3 linked regions of the Homo sapiens genome follow. The protein of the gene in region 1 purifies or fractionates together with the protein of each later gene. This does not show direct contact. Each region holds a gene or a part of one and is shown on either strand. Other genes may lie near its edges. The genes, in order: CFDP1, REC8 and RAB18.

What was found.
Region 2: the proteins of CFDP1 (region 1) and REC8 purify together in Homo sapiens (affinity purification with mass spectrometry; one large-scale study listed by BioGRID and IntAct). This does not show direct contact.
Region 3: the proteins of CFDP1 (region 1) and RAB18 purify together in Homo sapiens (co-immunoprecipitation; one large-scale study listed by IntAct). This does not show direct contact.

What each region holds. Positions count from the first base shown.
Region 1 is NC_000016.10:75,431,325-75,435,076, reverse strand, and holds the start of CFDP1 (craniofacial development protein 1), read left to right. Parts: upstream 1-1,573; 5' UTR 1,574-1,724; coding exon 1,725-1,788; intron 1,789-3,752. UniProt on the Homo sapiens protein: May play a role during embryogenesis.
Region 2 is NC_000014.9:24,174,971-24,177,959, reverse strand, and holds part of REC8 (meiotic recombination protein REC8 homolog), read right to left. Parts: intron 2,418-2,989; coding exon 2,336-2,417; intron 1,139-2,335; coding exon 1,059-1,138; intron 820-1,058; coding exon 738-819; intron 608-737; coding exon 577-607; intron 496-576; coding exon 419-495; intron 252-418; coding exon 202-251; coding exon of another isoform or gene 115-201; exon of another isoform or gene 83-114; coding exon of another isoform or gene 20-82; exon of another isoform or gene 1-19. UniProt on the Homo sapiens protein: Required during meiosis for separation of sister chromatids and homologous chromosomes.
Region 3 is NC_000010.11:27,521,219-27,524,870, forward strand, and holds part of RAB18 (ras-related protein Rab-18), read left to right. Parts: intron 1-3,652. UniProt on the Homo sapiens protein: The small GTPases Rab are key regulators of intracellular membrane trafficking, from the formation of transport vesicles to their fusion with membranes.

The sequences.
Region 1 (3,752 bases):
CCAGGCGTGGTAGTGGACGCCTGTAGTCCCAGCTACTCGGGAGGCTGAGGCAGGAGAATGACGTGAACCCGGGAGGCGGAGCTTGCAGTGAGCCGAGATTGCGCCACTGCACTCCAGCCTGGGCGACAGAGCGAGACTCCGTTTCAAAACCAAACCAAAACAAAACAAACCCAAACAAACAAAAAACAAAACAAAACAAAACAAAAAACCCTTGAAGGCAAGGTTTCTGCCCTGGAGACAGTGTTCAGCTTCTGGGATGAAGCAGTTGTGGAACCAATCAGACATCATCCACACTTTTTTGTTCCACCTCCAATAGACTGGCAGATGGTTCACGTATTTCCCGTTAAGTGCTTGTGGATTTTGGGTTCTTTACACCATTAGGAGTTTGCACTTTAGTCGCTCTTGGCATTGGCGCACAATAACAAGGGTGCATGATCCTGGCATGATTTAAAGCCAGGGGCTTTGGAGGCCGTTTGCATTATATAGGTTCGTTTGCCAACATCCTTGTAAAATAAGCCAGTCTCATCCGCATTGAAAACCTGCTCTTTCACATAACCCTTTTCCTGTATAACACTTAGCAAGTATTTTTAAAATTCTTCCGCAGCCTCCTGATCTGCAGAGCTCGCCTCACCTGCAAGTTTAACATTTTTCACCCCGTATCGCCTTTTGAAACGCGCGAGCCGGCCAGCACTCGCCGAGAAGGGCTTAGCATTTCTTTGACTCTGGGTAACGTGACCACAGATATCTTTGGCTTTCAGCCTCACCACAATGCTGTCCACTATGTTTTTTTTAATCGATTGACATCTCATGAATCCACAAATTTAGCCGCTTTTCCATCTTTTCCATCTTTGTCATAGCTTCATCACGCACGATGGAGGTCACTTCAGCACTATCCGGAGCGGCCTCACGGACAGATCGGTGAATTTCCTTTTCCTTTTTCTTGATGTACCGGATTGTCGACTCGTTAACATTGAGCTCATGGCCAACAGCACTGTAACTCATGCCTGATTGGAGCTTATCCAACACGCGGACTTTCTCCGTAAGGCACATCACGGTCTTCTTTCGCTTAGGAACACTGGGCAGAGCTTAAGCACTACGCTTGGGGGCCATTTTAGAAAGCAAAACCACCCACAAAAAGCAGAAAAAAAAGTGTCAGTAAACAGACTGCGGAAAGGACTCTTTGTTTACAGCACAGGAGCTGCGACTAGAAGGCGGCGCTTCTCCCAGTTCAAACTTCAGCTGGGAACCTTACCTCCGCCAACTCCAAATTTTCACCCTCTGCGCATGCCCGGGAAGAACCCCAGACAGTACCGTGATGATTGATTTTAGGGTTACAAATACATTTTAGCAAGTAAGTGAATTTGGCATTACGAATTAATGATTAATGAAGGTCACCTGTATTTCCATAGATATGTAATTTTATTTAAGCAGGTTTATTATATTAAGGCGGCGAGGCAGCGCCGAAGACTACAAGTTCCAGCATGCACCGCGTCCGGGCGGGTTCGGGCTCCCAGCGAGGGCTTCAGGGACGCCAGCCCGGAGGCATCGGCCGGAAGTGTCGTAGGGCAACCACGTAGTACTCTCTGCGCATGTGCAAAGCGCTGTCGGGGGCCGCCCTAGCTGCCGTCGCCGCCGCCGGGGCTCTATGGTCTCTCCCTAGAGCTTTGCCGTTGGAGGCGGCTGCTGCGGTCTTGTGAGTTTGACCAGCGTCGAGCGGCAGCAACATGGAGGAATTCGACTCCGAAGACTTCTCTACGTCGGAGGAGGACGAGGACTACGTGCCGTCGGGTGAGCGATTCCGCCTGAGGCGAGAAGCGAATTGCCCCGCCCCACGCCTCACGTGAGGCGCGCTCTGCCCCCGCGGGCGTCTGCCCTGTGGCCCAGGTGGTCCAGGGGGGCTCCTGTTCTCGAGCGTCCGCTCCCTCAGGCCCCTCATCCTCGGCCGCTCCGGCCCGAGGCGTGTGCGCGTGGCGGTTCTGTGCTCCCCTCCCGTTGGGCAGCTCCGGCCGCCGCCCCCTCTTGCAGCGCGGGAACCGGCACATGGACACGGCCCCTTGTCGCTAGGGACGCTCGTCGGTCAGCCCCGAACGACACCGCTGCTTCAGAAGTCGGGGCGGCAGTCCGAGCCTTGGAGGTTTTTTTCAGCCCTGGCCCGAGAGAGCTGCTGGCCACCACCCCGTCCAAGATAGAGCTGTCCGCTCTCCGCCTGGTTGTTAGAAAGTTCTGATAGAAAGTTCCCCCTTTGATGCTTTTTGCCTCATTGTGACGTCCACCCATCCTCTCCTCTCAGAACTTTCTTTCCTTAGGGATCTCAACCCGAACGGGGTGAGAATGAATCTTACTGAAGAAATCTTTCTGTTCCCCCTTCTTGGTCTTCCCCAGACAAACCGTCTCGTTGAAAGTATCTTCACCCATTCACATCTTCAGTTGAAAGACTAGACAAACAAGAAACAAACAGACTAACAAAACACAACCCAGGAGTCGTCCCTATTCTCTTTGTTTTACTTTGTTCTGTTCTGTTTTATTTAAAGACAGGGTCTTGCTGTTGTCTAGGCTGGAGTGCAGTGATGCGATCTTGGCTCACTGCAACCTCAGACTCCTGGGCTCAAGCGATCCTCCCGTCTCAGCCTCTGGAGTAGCTGGGACTGCAGGTGCAGGCTGCCACGCCCGCTAATTTTTTAAATTTTTTTTTTTTTTTTTTTTTTTAGAAATGGCATCTTGCTATGTTGCCCAGGCTGGTCTCGAACTCGTGGGCTCAAGTGATCCTCCCACCTCAGCCACCCAAAGTGCTGGGATTACAGGCATGAGCCACCGCGCCCCGGCTAGTGAAGTATTTCTAAAAGGCACGTTGAAAACTAGCCATTCCATTCCTGGCGCGGTGGCTCATGCTTGTAATCCCAACACTTTGGGAGGCTGAGGTGGGTGGATCACAAGGTCTGGAGATCGAGACCATCCTGGACAACATGGTAAAACCCCGTCTGTACTAAAAACACAAAAATTAGCTGGGCATGGTGGCACGCGCCTGTAGTCCCAGCTCCTCAGGAGGCTGGAGCAGGAGAATCGCTTGAACTCGGGAGGTGGAGGTTGCAGTGAGCCGAGATCACACCACTGCACTCCAGCCTGGGTGACAGAGCGAGACTCCGTCTCAAAAAAAAAAAAAAAAAAGTTAGCCAGTCCCATCACCCTCATCCCTATTTTATTTAATATTCCTCAGGAGAAACTTCTTTCCACCTTTTGAATTTGGTATTATATTTCTGTTGTCTATTGATTTAACCCATGTATAGTAGGTATCATTTTTAGTAGCCCCTGACCTCCTTCCCCTCATCCCAAACACACACACAAACACTTCCACCTTCGGGGCCTCCCCAACTCCGTAGTCTGCCGTTGAACCTGTGTCCAGTTTTAGTTAGATCAGTATTCAGTGTTTTTTTTTCTTTCGAGACAGTGTCTCGCTCTGTGGCTCAGGCTGGAGTGCAGTGGCACAGTCTCTGCTTAATGCGGCCTCTGCCTTCCCGGTTCAAGCAGTTCTGCCTCAGCCTCCTAAGTAGGTGGGATTACAGGCGCCCGCCAGCACACCCGATCGATTTTCTTTTCTTTTCTTTTTTTTTTTTTTTTTTTTTTTGAGACAAGAGTTTTGCTCTGTCTCCCAGGCTGGAGTGCAGTAGCGGGATCTCGTCTCACTGCAAGCTCTGCCTCCCGGGTTCACGCCATTCTCTTGCCTCAGCCTCCTGAGTAGCTGGGACTACAGGTCC
Region 2 (2,989 bases), on another chromosome or scaffold:
GCACTTGAGCAGCTCATACCTTGCATAAGGGTACCCATCTGGGAAGCGTAGGCCAGATACGATGGGGCGTAGAAAGGGGCATCTTTTATCATCTGCATTAAGGACCCCTGTAAGCTAGCAGTGGCCCTGGGCTTGGGGAGGCAGTCCTTGTGGGGGAGGGCAAAGAGGAGGAGGAGGAGGATTAGAAGGGAGGCTACTCACCTCTGGGCTGGGTGGGGCTGGCAGACGCAGCTCCTCCGGGGGGGTCACCTCTGCAACAACACCCAAGGGGCTCTGTCCCATAAGCCCCTTACCCCTTGCAGATGCCAGGGCAAGAAACTGCAGGGTCCTCCCTTTAGCAAGTTGGGATATAAAGCCCTTGTCTGCAGCAGTATCCAGGTACTCCCAGAAAAGCCCCTGGGGCATGGTGGGCACTCACCCATGAGTAGGGCCCCAGGTTCCCAGCCTGTCAGCCTCAGCTCCTCAGGACCCAGTGCCTCTCCTATTCCTTCCACCCTGAGGGGAAATGGGCAAGAGAAATGAGGAGACCCTTCCCAGCACTGACACCCTACCTGGTCTAGGAGTTCTTGCCCTTACTCTGCAGGAGCTGGAGGTGGGAGCCGCGGGACTGTGGAGAGAGAATCAGAGTTCAGAGGACAGAAAAAGAGAAATGGGAGCATTGCCCAGTCCCAGAATGCCCACGCCAGGGGTCTGACTATCCAGCTCCAGGCGGGCCCTACGCTGCCGGAGACACCTACTTTCTAACAAGATAGCTTCTTCTTCCTCTGCGATCAGCAGGTCCAGTTCTCGGCGGCTGACCTCTGGGAGCTCCCGTTCACCCTGTCCAGAGAGGAAGAGCAAGGGGAGGGGATTCAATAATATTTCTGAAAAAGGCAAGTGGATCCAGGAGAGTGGATCCCAGAGGCATGCCACAGGGCCAGGTTCAAGGAAGCCACTGGGTGCTCAAGTGCCAGGGACAGAGAATAGGGAAATGGAGACAGAAAAGGCAGGACTCTGGGGACAGAGAGAAGTACATGCAAGGGGGCTGGACCTCAGGCCCTGTGTGCAGGGGAACTCACCTCAATCTCCAGCATCCGTATGGGCTCTGCCTCCAGGATCGTGATGGCCTCAGGTGGCAGCACAGTGACCGGAATCCTCTCTGGAGGGACAAGAGAGTCACTAGCCTCTCTGCTTCTTTCCAAATTCCCACAGCCATGCAGTTAAGGAAAAGCATGGACTCTGAAGTCAAGGTAACCTGGATTCTAATCAGACCCAGGCTAATCTCTGGCATCCTGACCCTGGGTACACTGCTTAACCACTGTGAGCCTCACTTTCCTCATCGGTAAAGTGGGGAGGCTGGGCGAAGTGGCTCACACCTGTAATCCCAACACTTTGGATCGCTTGAGCCCAGGAGTTTGAGGCCAGCCTGGGCAACATAGCGAGACCCTGTCTCTACAAAAAATTTAAAAACTAGCCAGGTGTGGTGGCTTATCCTTGTGGTCCCAGCTACTCTGGAGGCTGAGGTGGGAGGATTGCTTGAGCCCTGGAGGTCAAGGCTGCAGTGACCTATGATCATCATACCACTGCACTCCAGCCTGGGAAAAAAAGAAAAAAAAAAAAAAAAAGCCGAGTATGGTGGCTCACGCCTGTAATCCCAGCACTTTGGGAGGCTGAGGTGGGTGGATCAACTGAGGTCAGAAGTTTGAGACCAGCCTGGCCAACATGGCAAAAACCCATCTCTACTAAAAATACGAAAATTAGCTGGGCGTGGTGGTGCATGCCTGTAATCCCAGCTACTAGGAAGGAGAATTGCTTGAATCCGGGAGGCGGAGGTTGCAGTGAGCCTAAAGTGCACCACTGTACTCCAGCCTGGGCTAGAGAGTGATACCCCATCTCTCAAAAAAAAAAAAGGATAAGAAATCTGACCTCAGAGGACTCTTGTGAGGTACTGATGAGGTTATACACATAAAATGCCCCTCACCAGGCACGGTGGCTCACACCTGTAATCCTAGCACTTTGGGAGGCCGAGGCGGGTGGATCACCTGAGGTCAGGAGTTTGAGACCAGCCTGGCCAACATGGTGAAACCCCATCTCTACTAAAAATACAAAAATTCGCCGGGCATGGTAGTGCACATCTGTAATCCCAGCTACTAGGGAGGCTGAGGCGGGACAATTGCTTGCAGTGAGCCGAGATCGTGCCACTGCACTGTAGCCTGGGCAACAGAGTGAGACTCTGCCTCGAAAAAAAAAAAAAGCGCCCCTCACAAGGCCTGGCTCTTAAGCTCAAAAATGGTCATTTCTACAGCTCTTGGGCCTGCCTATGCCTCTCACCAGAAAGAAGGTTCTCTCTGCTGACCTGGCTCCCTGGGCTCTGTAGGAACTTCAGGAGGGATCTCTTCAACTCTCTCTGGGATTGCAGCCTCTAAGAGGTGTCGAATCTTTGGAGAGGGATTGGAAACAAAAGATAGGGTTCAGCTTCAGCCCCCTGCTTTCCCACTTTTCACAGCCTTCTTCAACAATGCACGGTAATCTCCTTTTATGCCTAATTCTTGTTGCATTGACATCAGCTTGCAGTAAACTCACCCGCCCTCTGGTCTTCTTTCCTCAGTTCCTGTTCTCACCTCCCTCCCCAACCCGCACCCCAGTTATCTAGCCCTCATCAATTTGTGCAAGAAGGCCGGGCTCGGTGGCTCATGTCTGTAATCCCAGCACTTTGGGAGGCTGAGGTGGGTGGATCACTTGATGTCAGGAGTTCCAGACCAGCCTGGCCAACATCGTGAAACCTGATTTCTACTAAAAATACAAAAATTAGCCGGGCTTGGTAGCAGTGCCTGTAATTCCAGCTACTTGAGAGGCGGAGACAGGAGAATTGCTTGAACCTGGGAAGCAGAGATTGCAGTGAGCTGAGATTGAGCCACTGCACTCCAGCCTGGGTGACAGAGCAAGACTCTGTCTCAAAAAAAAAAAAAAAAAATTTGTGCAAGCAGCAGTGCATCGTTATCCTTGGCAA
Region 3 (3,652 bases), on another chromosome or scaffold:
CCTGGAGAATGTTTCATGTATACTTGAAAAAAATTTGTTGTTATACGGAGTATTCTGTTGGCTCTAATTGGCCTTCAAACCCTTTGTTTTCTGTTGATAATATATCTCAGTACACTATTCATAATTGGAAGTGGTGTATTAAAATCTCCGACTGTTTATCCTGTGAAAAAGACACTTTCACATGCATGTTTATAGCAGCACAATTCACAATTGCAAAAATATGGAACCAGCCCAAATGCCCATCAATCAATGAGTAGATAAAATGTGGCATATGCATACCATGGAATACCACTCAGCCATAAAAAGGAACAAAATAATGACATTTGCAGCAAACTGGCTGGAACTGGAGATCATTATTCTAAGTGAAGTAACTCAGGAATGGAAAACCAAACATTGTATGTTCTCATTTATAAGTGATAGCTAAGCTATGAAGACACAAAGGCATAAGAATGATACAGTGGAACTTGGGGACTCGGGGAAGGGTGGGAGAGGGATGAGGGATTTAAAAAACTACACATTGGGTACAGTGCACACTGCCCGGTTGATGGGTGCACCAAAATCTCGGAAATTACCCTAAAGAACTTATCCATGTAACCACATACCACCTCTTCCTAAAAACCTATTGAAATAAAAAAAAAATAGGATAAAGTATATGGGAGGATTTAAAAAAAAAACAAGAGGGTGATGTGCTCTGGTTCTGCAGGGAGAGGAAGGGGAGACGCATGGAAGCTCCGTGTTTGGGACCCTCCCAGACCTCATCCTTATGTGTTTCTCTTTTTGGTTGGTCCTGATATTGTATCCTTTGTAATGAAACTGTAATTGTAAAAATCTAAATAAAATGTAATTTGTGGGGAAAAAAAAGACGTTTTGGAATTCAGTCAGGCAATAAAAATAATCAGTATTTTCAGTGGAGGGCTTGTGTTTAGGAAAATAAATAAATAAATAAATAGAATCTCTGATGGTTGTAACACTATTTTTCCATTTAATTCTATCAAGTGTTTGCTTTGTATATATTGGACTTCTGTTCTGTGGTGTATATGTTTATAATTGTTGTATCTTCTTGAGAATTGGCCTTTTTATCAAAATATTTTGTTTTAGTCTCCTAACAGTTTTTGACTTAAAGTCTATTTTGTCTGATTTTAGAATAATTACCTTTGCTATCTTTTGGTTACTATTTGTATGGAATATCTTTTCCTGTCCTTTCACTCTCAACCTATATTTGTTTCTAGACCAAAAGTGAATCTCTGATAGAAAGCATGTAGTTGAATTTTTAAAAAGTATTCTGCCAATCTTTTGATAGGAGAGTTTATTCTATTTGCATTTAATATACCAATAAGGAAGGACTTCTGCCATTTTGCTATTTATTTCCTTAAAGAGTTTTTGTTCCTGAATTCTTACCATTACTGCCTTCTTATCTGTTTAGGGATTTTTCATAATAATATGCTTTGACTCTCTTCACATTTCCTTTTTTATCTATATTCTATATATATTTTCTTTGTGATCTATTTCAGTAAATTCTGGTAGCTTTTAATCTTTCAAGGAAATTGTCCATTTTTATCTGAATTGTCAAATTTATTGGCATAAACTTGTTCATAACATTCTGTCATTCCTTTAACTTCTGTACAATCTATAAATGGTGTGATTTTTTTCATCCTTTGTAATGATTTTTTTTGTCTTCTTTTTCCTGATCAATTTGACTAGAAGTTTATCAGTTTTATTGGTTTTCTTTTAGAAGCAACTTTTGGATTCATTGATTTTTGTTGTTGTTTTTCTGTTTTTAATTTCTGGTTTGAACTTTATTTTCTTTCTTCTACTTCTTCGGATTTAATTTGCTGCTTTTTCTATTGTCTTAGTTTAGAAGCCTAGGTCATTGATTTTAGATCACTTGTCTTTTCTAATATGGGTGTTTAGTGCTATAAATGTTCCTATTAAGTATTGCTTAAGTGGCATCATACAAATTTTGATGTTGTTTTTCTTTTTGTTTAAAATATTTAATTTAAAATACTTAGAACAATTTCATTATGATGTCTCCGAGTTTTTCTTCTTCTTTTTTTTTTTTTTTTTTTTTTTGCTAGGGGCTTATTGAGCTTTTTTGATCTGTGGATTTATATTTTTCATCAAATTTGAAATTTTTCAGCCATTATTTCTCAGATATATTTTCCCCCCTTCTCTCTTCTTTTTCCTCAACTCCATTGTTTGCATAATAGGCTGCTTGAAGTTGTCCCACAGATGATTGATGGTCTCTCATTTTCTTTGAACCTTTTCTTTCTGCTTCCTTTTGGGTAGTTTCTGTTGCTGTGTCATCACATTCACTGATGTTTTCTTCTGCAGCGCCTAATTTGCTGTTAATCCCATCCAGTGTATTTTTCATCTCAGACATTGCCATTTTTACCTTTTTTTTTTTTTTTTTTTGAGACAGGGTCTTGCTCTGTTATCCAGGCTGGGCTGCAGTAGCACAACCACGGCACATTTCAGCCTCGACCTTTCAGGCTCGATCCATCCTTGTACCTCAGCCTCCTGAGAAGCTGGGACTACAGGCGCAAGCCACCATGCCTGGCTAATTTTAAAAGTTTATTTTTGGCTGGGTGCGGTGGCTCACGCCTATAATCGCAGCACTTTGGGAGGCCGAGGCGGGCGGATCACGAGGTCAGGAGATTGAGACCATACTGGCTAACACGGTGAAACCTCGTCTTTACTAAAAATACAAAAAATTAGCCGGGCGTGGTGGCAGGCGCCTGTAGTCCCAGCAGCTTGGGAGGCTGAGGCAGCAGAATGGCATGAACCTGGGAAGCAGAGCTTGCAGTGAGCCAAGATCACTGCCACTGCACTCCAGCCTGGCCAACAGAGCAAGACTCCGTCTCAAAAAAAAAATAAAAATAAAAATTTATTTTTGTCAAGACGAAGTCTCGCTGTTTTGCTGGGGCTGGTCTTAAACTCCTGGCCTCAAGCGATCCTCCCACCTTAGCCTCTCAAAGTGTTGGAATTACAGGCGTGAGCCACTGTGCCCAGCCCATTTTCATCTTTAGAAAGTTCTGTTTGATCCTTTTTTATGTCACTCATGTCTACTTTTTGAACATGTGGTGTACAGTTGTAACATCTGTGTCAGTTCTGAGTCAGTTTCTATTGATTGATTTTTCTCCTCTTCAACAAGATGTGTGCTTCTGCTTCCATTAATATCTTCTGGTCTCCCATTCACATATATCTACTGTTGAGTTCATATTTTCTTTGGCCTTTTTCATGAAGGTTATTTTAGTTAAAACTAGATAATATAGTTAATGGAGCCTTTGAAATAAGCAGTAAGTGCAACATGAAAATTTACCAGTGTGCCTAAAAAAAGATTCTTGCAAAGAAACTGAATTAAAGATCATATTAAAAATGCAAACACAAATGAACAAGGAAAAGCTGAGATGACAGTTCTTCTGTTTCTGTTGTGAGCTCCATGTTATCCACATGAAGAGATTGAAGACACAGTTTAATCAAATTGGGTAAGAAACTGGCAAAATCAAATCTCTCAAAAAGACTCCCACTGCTGCTACCAATTAAGATAAATTATCAGCCACTTAACAAAAGAGAAGCATGATGAAGAAGCAGTTTTAGCATGTGAGATCTGAAGAGCTCAATTGCTGCATGTGAGATTCACCAGAGGAACCTA